7 linked regions of the Homo sapiens genome follow. The protein of the gene in region 6 purifies or fractionates together with the protein of the main gene of each other region. This does not show direct contact. Each region holds a gene or a part of one and is shown on either strand. Other genes may lie near its edges. The genes, in order: CETN3, LNPEP, CDC26, DCAF6, NISCH, PNOC and PDP1.

The links.
Region 1: the proteins of PNOC (region 6) and CETN3 purify together in Homo sapiens (co-immunoprecipitation; 2 studies listed by BioGRID and IntAct, with this or other methods). This does not show direct contact.
Region 2: the proteins of PNOC (region 6) and LNPEP purify together in Homo sapiens (affinity purification with mass spectrometry; one large-scale study listed by BioGRID and IntAct). This does not show direct contact.
Region 3: the proteins of PNOC (region 6) and CDC26 purify together in Homo sapiens (affinity purification with mass spectrometry; one large-scale study listed by BioGRID and IntAct). This does not show direct contact.
Region 4: the proteins of PNOC (region 6) and DCAF6 purify together in Homo sapiens (affinity purification with mass spectrometry; one large-scale study listed by BioGRID and IntAct). This does not show direct contact.
Region 5: the proteins of PNOC (region 6) and NISCH purify together in Homo sapiens (co-immunoprecipitation; 2 studies listed by BioGRID and IntAct, with this or other methods). This does not show direct contact.
Region 7: the proteins of PNOC (region 6) and PDP1 purify together in Homo sapiens (affinity purification with mass spectrometry; one large-scale study listed by BioGRID and IntAct). This does not show direct contact.

The regions. Positions count from the first base shown.
Region 1 is NC_000005.10:90,396,257-90,399,756, forward strand, and holds part of CETN3 (centrin-3), read right to left. Parts: intron 3,294-3,500; coding exon 3,102-3,293; intron 309-3,101; coding exon of another isoform or gene 237-308; intron 1-236. UniProt on the Homo sapiens protein: Plays a fundamental role in microtubule-organizing center structure and function. As a component of the TREX-2 complex, involved in the export of mRNAs to the cytoplasm through the nuclear pores.
Region 2 is NC_000005.10:96,939,080-96,942,579, reverse strand, and holds part of LNPEP (leucyl-cystinyl aminopeptidase), read right to left. Parts: intron 1-3,500. UniProt on the Homo sapiens protein: Release of an N-terminal amino acid, cleaves before cysteine, leucine as well as other amino acids. Degrades peptide hormones such as oxytocin, vasopressin and angiotensin III, and plays a role in maintaining homeostasis during pregnancy.
Region 3 is NC_000009.12:113,269,533-113,272,572, reverse strand, and holds part of CDC26 (anaphase-promoting complex subunit CDC26), read left to right. Parts: intron 1-24; 5' UTR 25-65; coding exon 66-146; intron 147-3,040. UniProt on the Homo sapiens protein: Component of the anaphase promoting complex/cyclosome (APC/C), a cell cycle-regulated E3 ubiquitin ligase that controls progression through mitosis and the G1 phase of the cell cycle.
Region 4 is NC_000001.11:168,072,683-168,076,336, forward strand, and holds the end of DCAF6 (DDB1- and CUL4-associated factor 6), read left to right. Parts: intron 1-2,688; coding exon 2,689-2,753; 3' UTR 2,754-3,154; downstream 3,155-3,654. UniProt on the Homo sapiens protein: Ligand-dependent coactivator of nuclear receptors. Enhance transcriptional activity of the nuclear receptors NR3C1 and AR. May function as a substrate receptor for CUL4-DDB1 E3 ubiquitin-protein ligase complex.
Region 5 is NC_000003.12:52,476,104-52,479,603, forward strand, and holds part of NISCH (nischarin), read left to right. Parts: intron 1-343; coding exon 344-496; intron 497-1,470; coding exon 1,471-1,539; intron 1,540-1,993; coding exon 1,994-2,179; intron 2,180-2,345; coding exon 2,346-2,474; intron 2,475-3,500. UniProt on the Homo sapiens protein: Acts either as the functional imidazoline-1 receptor (I1R) candidate or as a membrane-associated mediator of the I1R signaling.
Region 6 is NC_000008.11:28,337,768-28,341,267, forward strand, and holds part of PNOC (prepronociceptin isoform 1 preproprotein), read left to right. Parts: intron 1-879; exon of another isoform or gene 880-1,021; intron 1,022-1,272; coding exon 1,273-1,677; 3' UTR 1,678-1,724; intron 1,725-3,500.
Region 7 is NC_000008.11:93,919,923-93,923,245, forward strand, and holds part of PDP1 (pyruvate dehyrogenase phosphatase catalytic subunit 1), read left to right. Parts: intron 1-1,304; exon of another isoform or gene 1,305-1,441; intron 1,442-2,093; coding exon of another isoform or gene 2,094-2,137; coding exon 2,138-3,323. UniProt on the Homo sapiens protein: Mitochondrial enzyme that catalyzes the dephosphorylation and concomitant reactivation of the alpha subunit of the E1 component of the pyruvate dehydrogenase complex (PDC), thereby stimulating the conversion of pyruvate into acetyl-CoA.

The sequences.
Region 1 (3,500 bases), on a different chromosome or scaffold from region 6:
CATGCAATCAGTATTTAACATCTACAAAACACTATGACAAACATGGTAAGAACGTAATACAAAATCTGTAATACTCCAAACTACTTTCAAGAATCTTACAAATTGATGTAGTGATCTTTAACCTTTGCAGTTAAATAGCCATGTCTGAATATCTTAGGAAAGCTATGATCCCTCTCTCTTTCCAATAAATACAGTTCAAATATATAAAATTATTAATCAGTTTAGCCAGTGTGCACCTTCACTGAAGAACTCCCGATTTAGACTGAGGCATCTAGACCAAATAGGAAGCAAGAGTATGTTCTTAAGAACTGTATTAAGAGAAAAAACATAAAACAGCCTTAGAATGATTTGATTACAAATCATTTTAACAGTGTAATACATCCATGATTAAAATATTCAAAATCCAAAAAGTACTTGTTACTTAAAGATCTAGAACTTTTTCTTGATCTGTAAAATTTCAATACTCAAACTGCAAATTTTAAGTTTCATATATAAGTTTGAAAACCACAAAACACTTAATTTTTATATTGTTTATATACAAAAACTTTAAACTATAATAGCATTTCAAAAGTATTTAAAATACGGTCAGCCTTCTGTAACCACAGGTTCCTCACATCTGCAGATTCAACCAACTGCAGATGAAAAATATTTGGGAAAATAACACAATAAAAAATAATACAAATAAAATAAAGTATAACAATTTACATAGCATTTACATTGTATTAGGTATTATAAGTAATCTAGAGATGATTTAACGTATACAAGAGGATATGTGAAAGTTATATGAAAATACTATGCCATTTTATACAAGGGACTTGAGCACCATAGATTCTGGCATCCTTAAGCGACTTGGAACCAATCCCCTGTGCTTATCAAGGGACAACTGAATTCCATGATTCATACCTAAAAACACACTACTTAAACCCAAGAAAGTAAAAATTAGAAAGTGGCTCAGGAAATTAAACTAGCTACTTTACTTTAATTGTCTTGTAGACAATTAAAAGACAATCTTCTATATCTCTGTGCATTTGATTTTATAACCTTCTCTATTAACAATATCTTATATCAAGTTCCTATATCTAATAAATCTACCACAATGCCTAGCTTAAAATAAGCTTTGGTAAAACATTTATTGAATCAAGAAAATATGACACTTTGTTTCCTTTTATACTGCCTTCTTTAACAAAATTTTTCATACATCAACCATTTCATAGAGCAAATCTTATTACAAGTTGCTAACAATAAGAATTTTACAGAACTAAGTAGATTAAGTACCTTAGAGACCATCTGGCTTTGAAGGGGAAAAGCAAATCTTAGAATTGGAAGTTCCAACTGAGTATGTTGCTAATACACTGCTTCCTATAATAGCATGTAATTTTTAAAACTCCATAAACATAGAAGTCTAGTTAATATTTTACTTCATAGCCCGAAAGGCAATACAATATTACGTTTAAAAGCACATTCTTTGCCATTTTGGAGATTTGATTTTGAGTTCTGGCTCTACCATGTACAGTATTAGCTTTGTGATAACCTGGGCAGATTAATAATCTCTCAAAGCTTTAGCTTCCTCATCTCTATATATGCATCTATTATACACATGTATAGGTATAATACTATATCTACTTTACAAGTTATTATGGAAATTAAGTGACATAATTAATGCTAATATCCAATATAGTAGCTGCTAAATAAATGTTAAAAAACATCATCATTATTTAAAAGATTATCCATTCTGGCTTTTCAAAACGTTCCTTTCATTTTTTCCAAAAGATGTGCTGTGTTTTATTTTATATATGCTGTTGAGGGGGCAGGGGGAAGTGACTCTTTCTGTATCATTACCACAGCTTTATGTCTATCTTGTAGTACATCTTATTTACCTTTAACTTCACATTCACCATGTTTATTATTCTATATACCCAATATTTTTAAAATTTCATTGCTCTTAGATACTGAAAAGCATGAAAAAGTCACAAAGAGAGAAGAACACTAAAGTCCACAAAAAAGACAGCAAGGTCTAATCTTTAGCAGTTTAACATACAAATAAAGTGGTTTTTATCTCAACAAAACTTAGTTTCCAGCCAAAAGATTCCATATTAAGTGTATGAAAGTATCAAAACAATTTGTTTCTCTAAATGCTATAGGCCTTCAATGGAAGTCTCATGATTCATAGAGCGTTATGGGAAGCTTTTGGGAAAAAGATGGTGTTTAATATTTACCTGAGAGAATGAATCACATTTTAGCAGGCAGAAATTAACAATTAGAGCATTCTAAGATTAAGAAACAGCAGGATGAAACGAATAGCATAAAAATGTGTTTTCAGGATAGCATATGTTGACAAAATGTGTACATACAGGAGGTGAGGGTTAAAGAAGAAAAGTGAAAGAATACACTGGAAAGTAAAATCAGTTACTCAAGGTGGGATAGATCATAGAAGGCTTTGAACTTTACTCTGTAGGCACTGAAGAATCGTTTCAAGTGTCTAAACACAGAAATGGCATTATCAAATGTATATTTTAGGAAAAGAATGATACCAAGAGACTGAAGAAGAGATTAGAGACTTTTATATGCCGAAAGGGCAATTAGGACACTACAAGAGACTGCAAAGTGAAAGCAAGAACCACATCTGCCTTTTTCATTGTGTAGCACCAGTCAACACGCAGGACACTGCACCCAGTAGGCAGCCAAGGCAAGAATAAATGAGGCCATTATAACATTCCTAACTAGAAATTAGGGCCTGAACTAGGACAGCCACAATGGACAAAGATAAAAACAGATTCAAAACATTTGAAGGGGAAAATCAATAGAACTTAGAACTTAGCATGTAGGTTGAGGGAGAAGCCATTAAAGACTGAAATTATATTGAAAGGCTGAAATTTTGGTGGTTTCACCTTCAGAGAAAAGTGAAGGACCTTCTTGAAGTATAATTGGTTTTAGAGATCTGCTTCATTCTAAATTGAATATGTGAATTATTTAGACAGAAGGTCCATTACAAGAAGCAGTTAAGTTTACAAAAAAGTCTTGCAAGTCATTTGGTTTTAGAAAAATGTATTACATGTGTAGCATCAGGAAAACCTGGAAAATACGTTTCACTTAAAACTTACTTTCTCCATCACCATCTTTGTCAAATTCTTCTATCATAGCTCGAAGTTCTTCATCACTCATGTTTTCACCCAATTCTCTAGCAACACGTCGCAAATTCCTCAAGCTTATTTTACCTGAATCATCATCATCAAATAGTTTAAATGCCTTGAGTATTTCTTCATGGGGATCTCTTTCCAATATCCAGTCTGTCACTACAGTTTAAAAACATATATATTTTAATAAACCTGCATAATCACAAAGGCATTCATTTGTGAAATCAACTAAATATTAGATGAGAATTAAAGCTGTGACTGTCAACTTTTAGTCTGACAATAAAATGTCAAATGAGATCCCCAAACCCCGAGATAAACCTGAAATTAGAAAAATCAAATCCATATTTTAAATGTTAACCTTTTTTA
Region 2 (3,500 bases), on a different chromosome or scaffold from region 6:
TGGGTCCAAGTGATTCTTGTGCCTCAGCCTCCCGAGTAGCTGGGATTTCAGGCACGTGCCAACATACTCAGCTAATTTTTGTATTTTTAGTAGAGACAGGGTTTCACCATGTTGGCCAGGCTGGCCTCAAACTCCTGACCTCAGGTGATCCGCCTGCCTCAGCCTCCCAAAGTGCTGGGAGTATAGGTGTGAGCCACCGCGCTGGGCCTAGAGTGATTCTAATTCAGTGAATTGCCACCTCTGGCTTCATGGGCGTTTTTCTGTATCTCCTGACCAACCTGTTTTTTGGTGAGAGCGAGCGGCGGTGAGTCAGGAGCAAGAGCAGGCTTACCACAGCTCCACACCACGTTGTTTATCAAAGAGCTATATTTTTTCTTTAAATCTAAAACATTCAGACAAGTGAACAGTCCCAACTTACGAGTGACTGAATTTTCTGACTATAAAAAAGACAGTATGCTTAAATTTCTGGCAAATGTTTTCTATCTCTTGGCAAGGCTCCCAAATGCCAATCTTAACTCATTTGTCCCCTGAGCCCCCAATTCCATTAATCCAACCAGACCTACCTACCTGTCCCCTTCCAACCTAGACTCTGTCTTCAACCTCATACAACAGTGTCCTGCTCTCCAACTGAAGCTCATTTCTGAACCAAAGACTTGCAAGGATCAAGGCATGACCATTTTTAAAATCTCTGCCTATCAGCTTCTTCCTTTACCCCCAATCTCCACATTTCTTTCATCTTCATCATTGATTCTCCTCTTCCAATTTTCTCTAAACATCTTTGTAAAATGCAAAGTCCTTCAGGTGCTGCTAGGACAATCACAAATGAATTACAACAATGGATAAGGTTACAAGGGAATCCTGTCCACCCTTCCATGGACACAGAGAACTCTTGATGTTCCATTTACTGTCCAGAAACACCAAGGCAATAAGCAACACTCTCTATAACGGCCATATGTAGATCTAGGTCAAGATCTAGATATAAAAAGAACTGTACCACCACAAGGGCTCCAAAATGTCCCTTCATTCTCAATCCTGGCTTCTTGCAAACTTTCAGAAAAGTTGCTGAAATTTATCTACGGATTCAAATTAAAAAAATAATAATAAATAAATAAATAAAAGACTGTGTCTTTCTGGTTGCTCCAATTATACTATGGAAAGGCCTAGTAGTATCAGCTCAACTCCAGCCCCCTACAGTAGGTTTGCCCAACCCCAAGGCCACAGACCAGTACCAGTCTCTGGCCTGTTAGGAATCAGGCCACACAGCAGGAGTGAGCAGCAGGCAAACAAGTGAAGCTTCATCTCTACAGTCAGTCCCCATCGTTAGCATTACCACCTGAGCTCCACCTCCTGTCAGATCAGTGGTGGCATTAGATTCTCATAGGAGCACGAACCCTATTGTGAACTGCGCATGTGAGGGATCTAGGTTGTGTGCTCCTTTTGAGAATTTAATGCCTGATCTGTCACTGTCTCCCACCACTCCTAGATGGGACTGTCTACTTGCAGGAAAACAAGCTCAGGGCTCCCACTGATTCTACATTATGGTGAGTTGTATAATTATTTCATTGTATATTACAATGCAATAATAATAGAAATAAAGTGCACAATAAATATAATGCACTTGAGTCATCCCCAAACCTTCTCCCCTTTAGAATATATCACAAACTAGAAAGTATACATACATCCCCCCGACTGTGGTCCCTGGTCCCGAAAAGTTTGGGGACTGCTGCCCTACAGTTTTCAAGTCATGAGGTGACTAATTGACAAAACATAGCTGCACTGACCTCACCTCGACTGCCAAGAACCACAGGCCTCATCTAGGTCCATCCCAACATCTGGGGTAATCTTGGCTAAACTCTTTCAAATCTCAATTTCCTAATGTTTTCATAGACAGGGTTAATACTGCTGTTTCCTAATAGGAGTATTACACTAAATTAGTAGACATGCAAACAGTTATGAACAGTTTCTGTACATTTATTTCATAATTAGAATACTGTCTTAGACAAAACTTTATTGCTTTTTTATTTCTTCTGTGTTTCCATATTTCATATTAGCATGACAACAAAACTAGGTTCTTCTATTCATTTCTCTTATTTAGGTAAGCATTATCTGATGACGAGGTTGTGGGTTTTTTTTTTTTAATGTAACTGTGTCTAGCAGAAAATCTACTTGTAAATGGGCATTCAAAAGATAGCTGTATGATTGAATTACTGAGCAGAAAATTACCACTTATTTTCTATATAATTTCCTTATAACCAATCTCTCTGGTTATCTATCTTTCAGGCTGAGTTCTCAAGGATAACCTACAGATAAATGATAATCACCGGTTATAAGAGTTTCTAAAATATGCTGTTTTTATGCATGTATCAAGACAGTTTTTGGAAACTGGCAAGTAATAGCAAAGAACTTTTCTACCACTAGTTTCCAGTTAAAAACTGGGCTGTTTCTAGCTATAGCTTTAACCCTAGATTGTTAGTGATGCTAACACTTAATTCCTAACAGTCTTATTTCCCCCAAATAAAATTAAAAACTTAAGACAGAAAGATAAAAACAGGATTTAACTTATATTCCATCACACAGAGAAACTATGAGCTCCTATTTCTTAAGAGTTGTCTTTCAATGTGGAAATTTATCATAGAGCAAAAGAAAAATAAAAACAAAATGTGGTATGCTCACATTTTTGAGAAGTGATGCTAAAAATTTTTTTTTAAAAAGACTCACATATCTATAGAACAATTGTTATTTGTAAGATTAAAAGATGGAATCACAATTTTATACTGTATTACAACCCACAAATATCTCATTTGTTGCCCAGACTTCCCATTTTTGAAGTTGAAAAATACTTTCAACTGGATACCAATCTGAACATGAAAGCAAAAATAATTTTTTAAGACAACTAAGTCCTCCTTGTTTGATTATGCACCACACTGCGGTAATAAAAGTGATTCATAGGACCTACATTCATATGAAAAAAAAAACTATTTATGTTTTCAGTTCTGGGACCTCAAAATGCCAAAATACCAACCTTTAGATATACTTTAGAATATATCACAAACTAGAAAGTATATATACTTTCAGCTGGGCGCGGTGGCTCATGCCTGTAATCCCAGTACTTTGGGAGGCTAAGGTGAGCGGATCACTTGAGGTCAGGAGTTCACCTGGCCAACATGGTGAAACCTCATTTCTACTAGAAATACAAAAATTATTTGGGCATGGTGGCGGGCGCCTGTAATCCCAGCTACTCGGGAGGCTGAGGCAGGAGGATCACTTGAACCCGGGAGGCAGAGGTTGCAGTGAGCTGAGATTGTGCCACTGCACTCCAGCCTGGGCAACAGAGTGAGACTGTGTCTCAAAAAAAAAAAAAAAGAAAGTATACATACTTTCTAGTATGTATTTCATATATAATCAGACCTCCTTAATCAGATTCTGAGGGTGAACCTTAGCATTTGCATTTCTTAAGATGAATTTAAGTTTTTACAAAATATACCAACCCTGCATGCAAA
Region 3 (3,040 bases), on a different chromosome or scaffold from region 6:
CCTCCTCTCTTTCATTTTTAACAGCTAATAGTTCACTGGGTTTGGCCCTTAGTGTTGACTTCAGTATGCTGAGACGGAAACCAACACGCCTAGAGCTAAAGCTTGATGACATTGAAGAGTTTGAGAACATTCGAAAGGACCTGGAGGTATGAATACAACTTTGTGTTTTTTTGAGATGGAGTCTCGCTCTGTCACACAGGCTGGAGTACAGTGGCATGATCTTGGCCCACTGCAACCTCTGCCTCCTCTGCCTCAGCCTCCCGCGTGCTGGGACCACAGGTTCATGCCAGCACGCCCAGCTCATTTTTTTATTTTTAGTAGAGTTGGGGTTTTGCCATGTTGGGGCCAGGCTAGTCTCAACTCCTGACCTCAAGTGATCCATCCACCTCAGCCTCCCAAAGTGCTGGGATTACACGCGTGAGCCACTGCACCCAGCCATGAATACAACTTTCAAAGCTTAAGGAATATTTAAGATAATAATTCTTGTGTGGGCACAGTGGCTTACATCTGTAATGCCAGCATTTTCTGGCCAGGAGTTTGAGACCAGCCTGGGCAACATAGTGAGACCTTGTCTCTATGTTGGGCAGGGTGGCGCATGCCTGAGCTACTCAGGAGGCGGAGGCGGGAGGATTGCTTGAGCCCAGGAGTTTGAGGTTACAGTGTGCTATGATGGCTCCACTGTACTCCACACTGGGCAACAGTGAGACTCTCTGTCATACATAAATATGTATATACACACACATACATACACAATAACTTTAACTTCTGAACTGCAGACTCTTAAGCCAACAGCTTATTTGAAATCTCTGTTTGGATGCTTTACAGGCATCTCAAACTTCATGTATGTCTCCTGTGGCTGCTGTAACAAAGTACCACAAACTTCATCGCTTAAGACAACAGAAATTTATTATTTCACAGTTTTATAGGCCAAAAATTAGTATTGCTGGGCTGAAATTTAGGTGTCAGGAGGGCCACATTCCCTATGGAGGATCTAGGGAAGAATCCATTCCTTGGCTCTTCTAGCTTCTGGTGGCTGCTGGCATTCCTTGACTCATGACTGTATCACTCCAGTCTCTGCCTCCAGAGTCATATTGTCTTCTTTTCTGTCTGTGAAAACTTCCTCTGCCTCCTTCTTATGATATGTGTGATTGTGTTTAGGGCCCACCTGACTAACCCAGGATAATCCCCCCTTCTCAAGATCCTTAATTTAGTCACACCTGCAAAGGCCCTTTTCCCATATAAGGCATTTATAGGTTCCAGGATTAGGACCTGCTAGCTTTGGGGGCCATTTTTCAGCCTACTACACTTAACATGTTAAAAAAAGAAGAGAGAAAAACTCTTGATTTCTCCCTTGAACCAGTCGTCCCTTCCATTCTTCCCCAGTGTTTCCCATCTCAGTATTGATTCAGTTCCTCAGGCCAGAAACCTAGCAGTCATTCCTGAGTCCTCCCTTTCTCTTACGCTTTATATTCGATCTGTCTGTAGACCCTTTGATTCTACCTTCAGAATATGTCTGGAATCCACCCATACCTTTTCATCTCCACTGTTACAGTCCTGCGCTAAGTAACCGTCTTTCCCTGTATAATTGTAGTGGCATCCTAACTGGTCTTCTACTTCCATTTTTGTCTCTTTCAGTGCATTCTGCATCCAGTATCAAGAATGATCTTCAGAAATTTTCAAATCCTGTCATTCCCGTTTAAAACTCCTCAGTAGTTTTCTGCACTTATAACAAAATCTGAATTCTTCACCATGGCCTACAAGATTTTGTATGTTCTAGTGCCTCTCCAGATTCATTTTGTGCCATTCTTTGCCTTGCTCTCTATACCCTAGCCACATTGGCTCTCTTTCATTTCCTTGAACATGCCAATCTATTTATCACTTCCATGGACTTTCCACATATTATTTCCCCCTGCCTGGAGTGCTCCCTTTCTTCCAGTCTTCATTCAAATGTCAACTCTTCAATTTAAGAGGCCACTTTTGACCGTATCCAAGTTTCATGTGTCATTCCCGTCCATGCTGCCTCCATCTCTGTAGGCTCTCACAAAGCACCATATTTTTTTCATAGCATTTATTATAATTTACAATTTTTTTTATTGTAAAATCATTTACATTAGGGACGTTGATTGCAGAAATCATGTCTGTTTGCTTCACCATTGAGTTCTTACCATCTAGTTCATAGTAGGGGCCCCATATGTATTTTTAACTGTGGCCTTGCTACATGGTATTAGATGTCCATTAATAAGACTTAAATTCTTCAGTGGTCTACAGAATAAATTCCAAATTCCCTAGCATGGCATATGAGCTCCTTGTGAGCTGGTCCTTGCTTATCTCTCCACTTTCACTGCTGGGTTATCTTTAATCTCAGTGCCTATACACAGTGTTCCCTTTGCCAGAAAAGCCCTTTCTTTTTCTTTGCCAGGCTAACTCTTACTCCTTCCAGCCCCCAGCTGGGTTAGGCTCAACCTTATCCTCCTGTGCTAACCTCTCTCATAGGCACGGTCACTCTCTGTTGTAATTGTCTGTTTGCTTTTGTTTTCCCTCACTGGGCCATAAGCTCCTTGAAGTCAGGGATTAGTATATTTCTCTCTGCATCTGTTCCCTGCAATACCAGGTCCAAAGGAGGGCTCAATGCAAGTCTATTTTCATTTGCTGTCCTAGTAGGTATCTTGTACTATATGGCAGAGGACAGTACGTTTTGCATATATTCACCAACAGCTTTATTATGTATTGTATATGCTTCATATTAAGACTAATAACTTAGATTTCTTTCCCCCTGCTTCATCCCAAGAGACTTTAGTGTTCTCTAAGTATCGTAATTTTTGCTTTCTAAAAACTCATATATTATTAAGCATGAGCTTTAAAGTATGGCTTAAACTTCAGTTGTAACGAATCTCATAAAATGCTAGCATGCTGAACTTTGACTCTACAGTCAGCTCACTATTGAGTTAGTCTTTCCACTAAAGACAGTTATCTAGTGGGTTTTACCTTGTTTTAGAGTAACTTAGGAAGCAGGGACAGTCATGCCCTAAAGTGAAACCAG
Region 4 (3,654 bases), on a different chromosome or scaffold from region 6:
TAGCTAACAATGAATTTGTATTATTTCTTTTAAAGAAAGTAAATAAATTCTTTGTAAAGGGTAGCCTGGAAAATAAAACAACAGTGTTTTTTGTGAAACACAGGCTTCCATTGGGAAATTTTTTTCTTATCTACCTTCCCTCCCTCTGCAGCAAACTCAGTGTCTCTTCATATCATTATCTTCCCCAGTTTCCTGAAGAAATATTCTAACAGAATAAAAGGAACCTTTCTACAAATGTAAACCTTATTTACAAAAGCAATTTGACATTGCTACTTCTGAAAAACAGTATACATAGACATCCTGGCTAACATGGTGAAACCCCATCTCTACTAAAAACAAAAAAATCAGCCGGGTGTGGTGGCACGCTCCTGTAGTCCCAGCTACTCGGGAGGGCGAGACAGGAGAATCGCTTGAACCCGGGAGGCGGAGGTTGCAGTGAGCCAAGATCGCGCCACTGCACTCCAGCCTGGGCGATAGAGCGAGACTCGGTCTCAAAAAAAAAAGAAGAAAAAGAAAAACAGTATACATAGAAGTGATTCTTATTTCCAGTTTTTATTTAAGAGAACACACTGTTCTTCAGACCTCCTTGTCTATAATTGCCAACCAGAGATTTGTATAAGTGTTAACTGCTTTGCAGCCTTACTACTTCAGTAGCATTTCATGAACAGAAGATTTAATTAATTCTGAGAAGTTGGGCTTACATTCTGGAAGAGGTGACTATGCATCAGTTAAATGAATTGAATTTGAGGAGAGAACAACTATTCTGCTTTCCTCATTTCAGAAGCCACTGTCACTTATTCTGTGACCTATCGTAAGACTCTTGGCCCTCATTTGTCTCTTTATTGTGTGCCTCTGAGTGTAAAAGTCTAACCTCTACTGCAAACTCCCTGATTTAAAGGCTGTGACATTTTTTTCTTAACTCTCTATTATCCCATCTTCTTTATAATGTGACAACCAAAAGAAATTTGAGTAAGAAGCCTGCCAACTTTGAGATAGGCCGTTACTGCTTCATCATGCTCTAACATGACAGGATAGGTTTCTTGAATATATTCAGTCATACTCAGGATTCCCATTCCTGAGCCCTACTTAAGTAGAATAGCAACTTCATGTTTTGTTCTCTCTTGAAAGTATCACACAATAAAAACAATGTAATTTTTTTTATACTAATATCCCTTAGGTAGCCTTTTATTGGTCAGAAATTCTTCTACTGTGTTTAAATTCCTTACTGATCTATAAAGGTCTATTCAAATCTTATTTTGTTCATTTATTTTATAAATATGTATTGAATACATATTTATAAAATAAATGAACAAAATAAGATTTGAATAGACCTTTATAGATCAGTAAGGAATTGAATACTTATTTGTATTCAATACCTATTTGTATAATTAAGGTTATAAAGGTTACACATACATTATGTCATTGGTTTGACATTGGATTAGAGTTGGCATAGAGGAGATTTAATCTAATTCACTTGGACAATTAAACAATTAAAAGGGACATATAGTCCCTTCAGTGTACTGTTCTTGGTGCTGTTGACCTAGGATCCAGTGGGAGCATTTAATCCTGTGTAGATAATAAATAAAATCTCAGGATTCAGTCTTCTCTTGCTGTTGACAGTGGGACTGAACTGTTTTCCTTATGCTTAACCTTAATATTTTCCATGTTACTATGTGGAAATGTTTCTGGGGCAGAAACATCCTAGTTCCATCTCAGTGATGGTAGTGATTTTATGCTGTTGCCTTCTTCACAATACCCTTATGTAATGTATCTTACCTTCATAAAACTTATATTCATTTATTCAGTAAACCTTCATTGAACATCCTATACTAGGCTCTGAGGATATAAAGATAAAAAGAAGTAACTCCTGCCCTCCAGGAACTCTCAATCTGGTCTGCAGGAAGACATGCAAACGACTATTACTGTAATTAGGATCATCATTATGAAGTTCATATAAGATATTCTAGAATGTGGAGGAGGGAGTTCATAATTCTGCAGATAGCCTGTTTGGAAATGTCCAGGAAAAGTTTCACCAAGGGTATAATAGTTGTATTGAGATGAGTAAACCTTTATAGCTAAAGAATTGGGCAAAAGTATCCCAAGCAGAGGAATAGCAAGTGTAATTCCTGAAAACTTGAACGAGCATACTGTACTCACCAGTTTGTAAGTTTATATTCACTTGAGTATTTAACCTAAATAAGCTCCTTGAGACCAGAAATTTACATCTGTTTTGGTCACCATTGTATTCTCAGGTTTTATCACAATGCCTGGAACATAGTATTTAATTTAAAAAAATCTTTTTACAAACAGAATTACACAAATCCTCAACAATCGTCCACATATTTTCTCTCACACAGCTGCCTCCTCACTCCCCTTTGCAGCACCTGATGTACCTCCTTAGAAACCTAGACTCCAAAGAACACTGTTTGACAACCACTGCAGTAGAACATAATATATCAAGATTTTAGGAGTGGGTTTCTTTTTTCATTTTTACATGTTTTAGAATAACATGCATAATCAAAGCTAATAATACTGTGTTTTCTTTACTCTTTTATTTGCCTCTAAAGACATCCACACATAGTGGTGAACTGATTTTTAATGCGTTTTAAATAAAAGGCATTGAAAAATATTAATAATTGTAATTACTAAAAGTATTTCTCTTTGCGATTCTCTTATCTGTGTTTCCAGACCGGTTGGAGGGTGACAGATCAGAAGGCTCTGGTCAAGAGAATGAAAATGAGGATGAGGAATAATAAACTCTTTTTGGCAAGCACTTAAATGTTCTGAAATTTGTATAAGACATTTATTATATTTTTTTCTTTACAGAGCTTTAGTGCAATTTTAAGGTTATGGTTTTTGGAGTTTTTCCCTTTTTTTGGGATAACCTAACATTGGTTTGGAATGATTGTGTGCATGAATTTGGGAGATTGTATAAAACAAAACTAGCAGAATGTTTTTAAAACTTTTTGCCGTGTATGAGGAGTGCTAGAAAATGCAAAGTGCAATATTTTCCCTAACCTTCAAATGTGGGAGCTTGGATCAATGTTGAAGAATAATTTTCATCATAGTGAAAATGTTGGTTCAAATAAATTTCTACACTTGCCATTTGCATGTTTGTTGCTTTCTAATTAAAGAAACTGGTTGTTTTAAGATACCCTGAATTTGACTTTTTATTTAATGCCTTGCTACTTTGACCCACAGTTTTCCAATCTCTCCTGTAGCATACGATGACTATTTTTCTATATTTTCTAGATTTAACAACCTTTTCCTTTTTTGCTTGTGTGGGATAGAATCACATAGAAGGACTTCCTTCATTTCTCCTTCCACGGTACAGCTGACCCTTGAGCAACCCAGGGGTTAGTGGCACCAGCCCCCCTCACAGTTGAAGATTCATGTGTAACTGTTGACTTCCCAAAAATTTGACCATTAACAGCCTGTTGATCGCAAGCCTTACTGATAGCATGGTCAATTAACACATATTTTGTATATTTTATGTGTTATATTCTATACTCTTACAATAAAGTAAGCTACAGAAAAAGTGTTATTAAGAAAATCATAAGGAAGAGAAAATATATTTACTGTTCACTAGGTGGAAATGGATCATCATAAAGGTCTTCACTGTTGAGAAGGCCGAGGAAGAAGGAGGCGTTGGTC
Region 5 (3,500 bases), on a different chromosome or scaffold from region 6:
CTCCAGCCTGGGTGACAGAGCGAGACTCCATCTCAAAAAAGAGAAAAGGCTAGAAAAGGCATCACCAGGTCACCAGGGCAAAGGCCCTTTGGGCTTGAAAAGCATTGCTCCTAAAGCAGGGCCAGGACTTAATTCTAAGTGGCTGTTATGTGGTAAATTGTTCAGCTTTGAACGATTTCACAATCGTTTAAAGACATAGGAACCAAAGGCATGCTTTAATGCAAGTTTACTTCCACATGCTAAATATGCTCCAGCCCTTCCTTAAATTCTGCAACGACTGTGTTCCCAGTGAGTGTTGCGTGAGGGCCCGAGTGTGGTGCTCCACACAGATGTTTTTATGCAGGAAGTCCTTGTTCCTGAAGCCTCAGAATTTGATGAGTGGGAGCCTGAAGGCACAACCCTAGAAGGCCCTGTGACTGCCGTCATCCCCACTTGGCAGGCATTGACCACGCTTGACCTGAGCCACAACAGCGTCTCCGAGATCGACGAGTCTGTGGTATGCTCTCAGCAGCAGGTGCCAGGGGTTTCTCTGGCCCCACCAAACCCTGAGTTTGAGTATTTAACTCAGCTTTTTTAGGAAGGACCACGGAAAACCTATATCTAGTGCTCTGTGCATTGCCTGCCATTTTAAGTTAATTACAAAATGGGGGCTGGGCGTGGTGGGTCACACCTGTAATCCCAGCACTTTGGGAGGCCGAGGCGGGAGGATCACTTGAGGTCAGGAGTTCGAGACCAGCCTGACCAATGTGGTGAAACCCCATCTCTACTAAAAATACAAAAATTAGCTGGGTGTGGTGGTGCACACCTGTAATCCCAGCTACTTTGGGAGGCTTAGGCAGGAGAATCGCTTGAACCCGGGAGGCGGATGTTGCAGTGAGCTGAGATAGGGCCACTGCATTCCAGCCTGGGCGACAGAGTGAGACTCCGTCTCAAAAGAAGAAAAAAAAATGGGATCATTTAAAATTGGTGAGGTAGTACTTAGAACCAAATAAAACATAATAATTTCATGTAAATTTGGTAAACTATAACACACTAAATGATGACATTTGCTCCAAAGAGTGGAGCAGAAAAATCACTCCTTAGATGACAGATGTGCCCATGAAAGAATGACACCCAGAGGGCATTTGGGCAGTAAGAGTGTCGTTCCCGTGTTTGCGCTGCTCAGGGAGTGTGGGCAGGGTTGAAGAAGAACAGACTCTCTTCTCTGTCTGGGACCTTGCTGTGTGTCATTTTCACAAGCCAAGTGTTCCATGAAAACTGAGTAGTGCCCAGCACTGGGGGCCCTGTGTGTGCCTTTGGATGTGCTACTGGCTGGGCAGCGGGAGATGTCCCACCAGTGGTCCTGCAGGGACGGCCCGTGGGAGTCCATGGTCGGGAGGAAGCGTCCTGGGGTGCCCGTCCACTGTGTCGGGGACCGTGTTTGGGGTCCAGCCCCCTACAGTAACATCGGGTGTTCTTTTCTTTCACAAGAAACTGATCCCAAAGATTGAGTTCCTGGACCTGAGTCACAATGGATTGCTGGTTGTGGACAATCTGCAGGTAGTGCCTTTGGAGACCAGTGCTGCCCGCACACACTCCCAAGGCCCCGCCCTGAGATTTCAGGAGACTGACGCAGCCTTGGGAATTGGCCAGGGGTTGTAAGGGCAGGGGTTGCTGTCTTCGCTTTAGGATCCCAGCAATGCACTGAGTGATTGTTGCTCTAGTTCCAAAGAATTAGGAAGCATGAGTAAATACAAACCAGGCATGATGATGCACCTCCGTCCTGAAGGTGGACAGCCATGTTTTCAACGCCCACCCCAACTGTCTGCAGGGGTGCCACTGTGCTGTGGCATGTGCGGCAGAGAAGAGGGACTTCCCTTCCTAAAATAACTGTCAGAGTGACTTGCAGAACTGGGTAGTTTGGGTTGGAAGGCCCATCCTGCCATTAGTGTCAGGCCCCTATCTTTGGAGACTTGACCTGAGCCACTTTACGCTGTTCTCCACGCCGCTGCAGCACCTGTATAACCTTGTGCATCTGGACCTGTCCTACAACAAGCTCTCCTCCTTGGAAGGGCTTCACACCAAGCTGGGGAACATCAAGACCTTAAACCTGGCAGGCAACCTCCTAGAGAGTCTGAGTGGCCTGCACAAGCTCTACTCACTGGTCAACCTGGATCTCCGGGACAACAGGATCGAACAGGTGAGCCCAAGGACCTCACAGTTTTGGGATTTCTGTGCCTTGGTGTGTATCATGTTAAAGAAGAATGTTAAGATTCCTTTCATTTAAAAGAGACCATGAAACGTGTTGGCGTGTTGCTGAAGTGTTAAGAGAAGGGACCAAAGGGGATGGAACTCATACCTTGCAGATGGAGGAGGTCCGGAGCATAGGCAGCCTCCCGTGTCTGGAGCACGTGTCTCTGCTGAACAACCCTCTGAGCATCATCCCCGACTACCGGACCAAGGTGCTGGCTCAGTTCGGAGAGAGGGCCTCAGAGGTGAGCCCCAGCACAGTCAGAAGAGCCCAGGGAGACCTTCGGGATGCAGTCAAGTCTGCATGGGCGGTAGGGGGATATATGTCCATTGTTCTACCCTTGCCTGCTTCAGAAAGAGGTCCTGTCCCTTAGGGGCTTTTCAGTTCTGGGAAGTCCACTATCTCCCCAGGAAAAAGCTCCCTTGCATCTCCTGCCCCTACTGTCTGGGATAACATTGTTTATTCTAGGAAAGGGTCAGAAATAAGATCCTTAAAATATTCATATCTCCTGGACAACCTGTGGCCATAGTGCCTGACTGTAAACCCAAAGGGTTTGCCTTTGCCAGTGTAGCCCAGCCTGGTGTCTGCTGCCCCTCGCGGTGTCTGTGCACCTGCCACGATGCTGACCAGACACCCTTAACCAGGTTCACCCATCGCCTGGGCCTGGAGCAGTCCCCGTGATGCTCTGATTGGTCCTTGGACCTTCTGTTCTCCCAAAATCCCAGGTCAGAAAATACCTGGAAGTCTATTTGTGTCCCACCTCCCTCTTTGTGGCCGCAAGTGCCCCTTCCTCCACACAGTCACAAGACCATGAGATGCCATCTCCTCCCCTCCTGGGCTGCAGACTTTGGGAAGCTCCCAGGCCACAGAGTGTCAGCTCCTGTCCAGGCCCTTGGGACCTTCCCTCATTCAACCACCCTACCCAACCCCCCACTGCCTGCCAGCCACCACTCCCTCCCACATTTGCAGGCGGGGGCCCTGCCCTCTCCTGCCGCTGGTTCCCCTACCCAGGAGGCTCTCCCATCGCTCTTTTGAGAGTCTGCCTCCCACCTCTAACTGGGGGCTTAGTTCAAGTTGCCCCCTTACCCTAGTCCCAGCTGCCCAAGAGCTTGCTGCCTCCTGTTCTTGGTGAGGGACTCCAGAGACAGATGTGAGACCTCCCTGGACCCCTCCAAGGCATTCCCAGGTCACTTCCATGAGTAGTGAAGAGCCGCCTCTGAGCAGGCTGAGCCTCCCTCAGCCTATGGTGTCCTCACGTGGCCTGGCCCAC
Region 6 (3,500 bases):
TTTTTAGTAGAGATGGGGTTTCACCATGTTAGCCAGGATGGTCTCGATCTCCTGACCTCGTGATCCACCCGCCTCGGCCTCCCAAAGTGCTGGGATTACAGGCGTGCGCCACCGCACCCGGCCTACACTTCCATTTTTATGTCGTCAGCTACTTATGGCTCCAAGGAAGCTTGGGAAACATATACGTTGCCTTTAGGAATAAAACAGTGTTCTGTGCATAAGGAGAAGGGGAGATGAATACGGGCCAGTTGCAGCCTCTGCCCCAGAAGGTGACCTGGAAGCCAGGCAGGAGCTCCACGCTATGATGAGGAGCTCTGCCTACTGACTCACAGCAGTAAGGTCAGGTTGAAGTGGGGTTTCCAGCCGGCTAAGGCCAGAAACCTGGACTGAAATTAGGGGTGAAGCCAAAACAGCAAATAGGAAGAAAAGCTGGGGGCAGAGGCTTCCAGGAGACCCAATCAGAACCAAGAACGTGGGAGGTGGGGGGCCAAGGTCAGAACCAGCCAAGAGGGGCTGGAGAAACATCGTGGTCCAGCTGGTGGCTAGAAGTCAGGGTTGGCAGGAGAGGCAGAGCAGAGTGTTCCTAGGAGCCGAGCGGGTCTGCTGGGCTCTGGTCTGATGATGGCATCTCTCCCCACACCTGGAACTGGATCACAGGTTCAGCCCCGCACGTCCAGCCGGCCTACCACCCCACAGGGTCTTGACCCCATTTGCTATAAATGATACACAGATAGTGACGACTGCTGTACGCGGGATGAAAAATTAACAACACCTAGGTAGATCTTTACATGGTGACCTTAAAATAAACCTGCAGATTTGACTACATACTTTCACATCCCCAATTTCTTTAACCCATGTGACCTCCCACAAGCCTGAAGAGAGAACAAAATAAAATTCTTTATGGGTGACAGTCATGAGCTGTGCTTGGCTCCAAAAACCCGACTAAAGATGTAACAAGGTGCGGTGTTGGGCGCATTTATCCTGTGTTAACTTCCTATGTTAACGTGCTGTGACACCAGAGGTAAGTTACGCTCACCTCTCTGAGCCCTGGTTTCTTTGTAAAATGATGGAGCTGGGTCAGATGATTCTCTGTTTGTTTCCAATTCTGAAATTCTACGAACCTAAAACCTGTGTAAAACTGCTCCACGTTACTTGATAACTTAGATGCTTCAGAAGCACTTGCACTGGTGCAGTGGGCCAGATCTCCTCCCTCGCCCTGGATTAACAGAGGTCCTTGTTCCTTCTCCCCTCCTCTCACCCGTATCTTTGCAGGTGTGCATCCTCGAGTGTGAAGAGAAGGTCTTCCCCAGCCCCCTCTGGACTCCATGCACCAAGGTCATGGCCAGGAGCTCTTGGCAGCTCAGCCCTGCCGCCCCAGAGCATGTGGCGGCTGCTCTCTACCAGCCGAGAGCTTCGGAGATGCAGCATCTGCGGCGAATGCCCCGAGTCCGGAGCTTGTTCCAGGAGCAGGAAGAGCCCGAGCCTGGCATGGAGGAGGCTGGTGAGATGGAGCAGAAGCAGCTGCAGAAGAGATTTGGGGGCTTCACCGGGGCCCGGAAGTCGGCCAGGAAGTTGGCCAATCAGAAGCGGTTCAGTGAGTTTATGAGGCAATACTTGGTCCTGAGCATGCAGTCCAGCCAGCGCCGGCGCACCCTGCACCAGAATGGTAATGTGTAGCCGGAAGGGGCGCTCCTCCCAGCTGTACCGGCCACTGCAACCCATGAGTGAGTTGGGCACCAATAAGCTGGGGGCAAGGAGAGACCTCACACACCAACTGTCTTAGCCTTGCTCCCAGGCCTAGAAGCACATTCATCTCCCCGCCCCCTCCCCACTCCACACACACACACCCCGCAAGGAGTCCAGCCCACCCTTTCTCTAGGCAGCAGATTTTCCTATGATTGCACCTTGAAGCTGACCACTTCCGGCTAGAGACTGGTTACCATGGGGATAATAGTAGTATGTTAAGATAACTAATTCCTCTATCACTCCCCAGGAGCTTAGTTACTATGGGGACAGTTAAGTGGACCAATACGCCCATCCAGTTGCCACAGCAACCAGTCAGCTCACCTTTCCTCGAGATTGTCTCTCTAAACACCAAGAGTGGGACCTACTCTTAGCCATTAGCAGAGTCCAATTACCACAGCTATGATGGTGCTATTTCATCTTCAAAGACGGCTTACCTATCCCCTCTCCTTTCCCCAGCTCTCAGGGTGCCTGGCTCCATGGAAACATTAAAGTTTCCCATTTTACCTGGACAAAGAGTTCCTGTTAAGATTAGGAGTTGTGGTTTCTGCTCTTCCTCCTTCCACAAGCCATTTGTCCATCCTGCCACCTTGCCAGAGAGGGACTGATTCCTTGTGGTCAACGGTATCATTACTGAGCAAGACGTGGAGAATTTGGTCCAATGGACCTAGTAGCTACTAGAATATGGACTAAAGGGGTTCATCTTCTTTCCTCCATTTGGCTTCTTTCCAGCGTGCCATTTTTGTTTTGGTTTTGTTTGCTTGCTTTTATTCCTCTCTTTCTTCCTTGTTCTCTCTTTCTTCTGCTCTGTTCCTATACCCACAGGCACCTTATACAAGTCCACATGTCTCATAATATACATCAAATACCCTAACTGATTGCCTGTTCATTCAAAACCCAACTTTCCTTAGGATATCAACCAATACATCACTTTGAGTGGCATTGGCAACCTAGCACAGTAGAATTTTCTGAAAATTTAGGAAACTCCCAACCATCAAGGCTATGTGCCTTAATTTGTATATGGGAATATGATCATCTGCAGAGTCCCATACGTCTCCTTAAATAGCTAAGAAACTTGCCATATTCATCCATTTTGCATTGCTACGAAGGAATACCTGAGGCTGGGTACTTCATAAACAAAGTTTATTTGGCTCACGTTCTGCAGTCTATACAAGAAGCATGGCACCCGCATCTGCTTCTGGTGAGGCCCTCGGGGAGCTTTTACTCATGGCAGAAGGCAAGGGGAGCTGGCGTGCCACATGGCAAGAGGGGGCAAGAGGGGGAAAAGGGGAGGTCCCAGCCTCTTTAACAACCAGATCTCCCACGAACTCATTACCATAGGGTGGGCACAAAGGCATTCCTGAAGGATCCACCCCCATGACCCAAACACCACCCACTAGGCCCACCTCCAACATTAGGGATCACATCTCAACATGAAATTGGAAGAGGACAAACTTCTAAACTGTATCATTGTCCTAACACAAAGAACCAGTCAGATCATCAAAATCACCCCAAAACATTACCCAAGTGGGGCTTTTCCCTGAGTCCGAGCATAAGAGAAAAATGTCTGCATGTGCTATTTTAAGTTGCGTCCCATGTGTCAGAGGTAGCCGTGTCACTAATAACCTTCCTTGATGATCTATTAGTACATATGCTAATGTTTGGTGCCCACACTTTAGCATGGAGACGGCCCCTTTGCAGGTAGGCCAACATGTTCACCACGGGCCTGTTACCAAATATGGACACGTGTATTAAGT
Region 7 (3,323 bases), about 66 Mb from region 6:
CTGGATGACTTTCAGGTATTCAGTTTGAATTTCTTTTATTTAAATGGTTACTCCTGATGGATTCCCGTTTTTCTGGAATTTCTGTTTTTCATTAGTGCATTTCAGAATGCTTTTTTAGTTACGGATTCTTATTTCCAAAATTTTAGCCATTACTTTCTATTGCCTGATCTTGTCTTCATTTTCGTAAACAAATCCCTTCTTAGATAGTGCAGTTAAAATGATGGTACTTTCTACTACTTGCAGAAGAGAATCTGTGTGGCTGGCTTATGCAGTGCTTATTACAGAAACAAACAAGAATCAGTGATTATTCAGTGTTTAGTTTTCTTTGCTTCCCTCTACCCCAATTTATTACTTTTTCTCAAATTATTCTTCAAAAAAGGTACATGAAAATAATATATGGCTGACACATGCTATGATATTTGTTTAGCCGTGGGAAGGAATAGTTGCTATTAACTCAGATGGTTTTATTTTCTGTGTTCCTTTTTGTTTATTGCATTTGTTTATTTAAAGTATTTCCAAAGTGTTTCTTTATAGTACAAATGACTATTTTGAAGCAGTATCTCAAGAATTCAGGGAAAATATATGTTATTGAGGAAGAAGAGGGATTTTTTTTCTTGCCCAAATTATCTAGATTAATGATATATTCATTAAATTTCCCAAATAAATGCCCAGAAATTATTTTCAGCGCACATAGTGAGTGATAGGATTTTTTTTAAGTTTGTAATTATATTGCTGTACCTTTTCAATCCAAACCTTAGACTATTATTTGACTATACTGCTTCCCTGGAGCAAGTAAATACCTTTTTTTTTTTTTTTTAATGTGAGAGAAAACATTTTTGGTCTTTTAAAATTTATTTTTAATTTACAATTGACACATAATATTATATATTTATGGGGTACAATGTGATGTTTCAGTGCATGTATATATTGGTAGACATTGTGTAATGATCAAATCAGAGTGATTACCATATCCAAGAAAACATTTTTCTAGGGGTTAATTCTACTTTGGATCCATAGTAGATGAAAATACTTCTATGGGTTTTCCTTATAGCTGCTAAGCAGGGAACATTGTTAGTAGGTAAATTAAGTTCTAGGACTGAAACCATTTATGTTACTAACAAAGCTTTAGAGCTACTGCAATACTTAAACTTTTTTTTTTTTTTTAATCATGAAGGGCACGGTAGAATTCAACAGTGAATAAATGAAACCTGAATTTTATTTAAAAACCTCACTTCCATAAGCATAAAGGCATGAATCCTAGAAGAGCCTTAGATAGCATCTGCTCTGTTGATGTTCCTTTACAGGTTAGAAGAGTGAGACTCAAAGATGTGAGCTGACTTTTCCAAGATTATTTGGGAGTTGGTGGCAGACCTATGCCCGTTAGCCTGGCAAATTGCCACAGTGGACTAGAGAAGCAAGTTTTGCAAGACCATCTACTGGGGTACAGGAGAGAAATACTGGAATTTCTTTTTTTATTTAATTATGTAGAAATTTTTCTATATATGTTACAATGCATATTACTGTAGTCATATATGTATATGATGTACACGTAATTCATAAATACACATATGTTTGGCTGCCTCTTAACATTTTTGGTCATAGCCATGTGTAATCATGCCAAAAATTGACCACAGGTCTATGTAAAGGGTCTTCATAAATGGAAGAAGTCCCTGTGTAAAATGGGAGATTTCAAGGCATTTTTTAAGAATAGGGAGGGAGAAGGATGATTGGTCAGGTAGACGGCTACTGCATAATGTTATATAACCTTCATCTCCTCAGCTTTCCCCAGCCAAATCTGTTGTACATTCTGCACAGTTTGTACTGCACAAAGGACGACAAAGAAAAGAGAAAATTGAAGTTTGAGTATAGGAGCCAGGAGTTCAGTCGTGGTTCCACGAATGATTGGGAGTTGTGCCTGCCAGAATATACCCTGTAGAAATAGTACATGATGTGTGTATAAAATGTAGTACCTTCTAGCAAAGGCTTAACATGTAGATTGACTTGCTTAATATTTGTTATAAAGGCAAAGCTAGATTAAGTATCCTGAAATGTAACTCTTTCCTTTGTGTACATCTGTCTAATTTGCTGTCTAGGAATCCCAGTCAGAAGTTCCAGCCTGCCACTGTTCTCTGATGCCATGCCAGCACCAACTCAACTGTTTTTTCCTCTCATCCGTAACTGTGAACTGAGCAGGATCTATGGCACTGCATGTTACTGCCACCACAAACATCTCTGTTGTTCCTCATCGTACATTCCTCAGAGTCGACTGAGATACACACCTCATCCAGCATATGCTACCTTTTGCAGGCCAAAGGAGAACTGGTGGCAGTACACCCAAGGAAGGAGATATGCTTCCACACCACAGAAATTTTACCTCACACCTCCACAAGTCAATAGCATCCTTAAAGCTAATGAATACAGTTTCAAAGTGCCAGAATTTGACGGCAAAAATGTCAGTTCTATCCTTGGATTTGACAGCAATCAGCTGCCTGCAAATGCACCCATTGAGGACCGGAGAAGTGCAGCAACCTGCTTGCAGACCAGAGGGATGCTTTTGGGGGTTTTTGATGGCCATGCAGGTTGTGCTTGTTCCCAGGCAGTCAGTGAAAGACTCTTTTATTATATTGCTGTCTCTTTGTTACCCCATGAGACTTTGCTAGAGATTGAAAATGCAGTGGAGAGCGGCCGGGCACTGCTACCCATTCTCCAGTGGCACAAGCACCCCAATGATTACTTTAGTAAGGAGGCATCCAAATTGTACTTTAACAGCTTGAGGACTTACTGGCAAGAGCTTATAGACCTCAACACTGGTGAGTCGACTGATATTGATGTTAAGGAGGCTCTAATTAATGCCTTCAAGAGGCTTGATAATGACATCTCCTTGGAGGCGCAAGTTGGTGATCCTAATTCTTTTCTCAACTACCTGGTGCTTCGAGTGGCATTTTCTGGAGCCACTGCTTGTGTGGCCCATGTGGATGGTGTTGACCTTCATGTGGCCAATACTGGCGATAGCAGAGCCATGCTGGGTGTGCAGGAAGAGGACGGCTCATGGTCAGCAGTCACGCTGTCTAATGACCACAATGCTCAAAATGAAAGAGAACTAGAACGGCTGAAATTGGAACATCCAAAGAGTGAGGCCAAGAGTGTCGTGAAACAGGATCGGCTGCTTGGCTTGCTGATGCCATTTAGGGCATTTGGAGATGTAAAGTTCAAATGGAGCATTGACCTTCAAAAGAGAGTGATAGAATCTGGCCCAGACCAGTTGAATGACAATGAATATACCAAGTTTATTCCTCCTAATTATCACACACCTCCTTATCTCA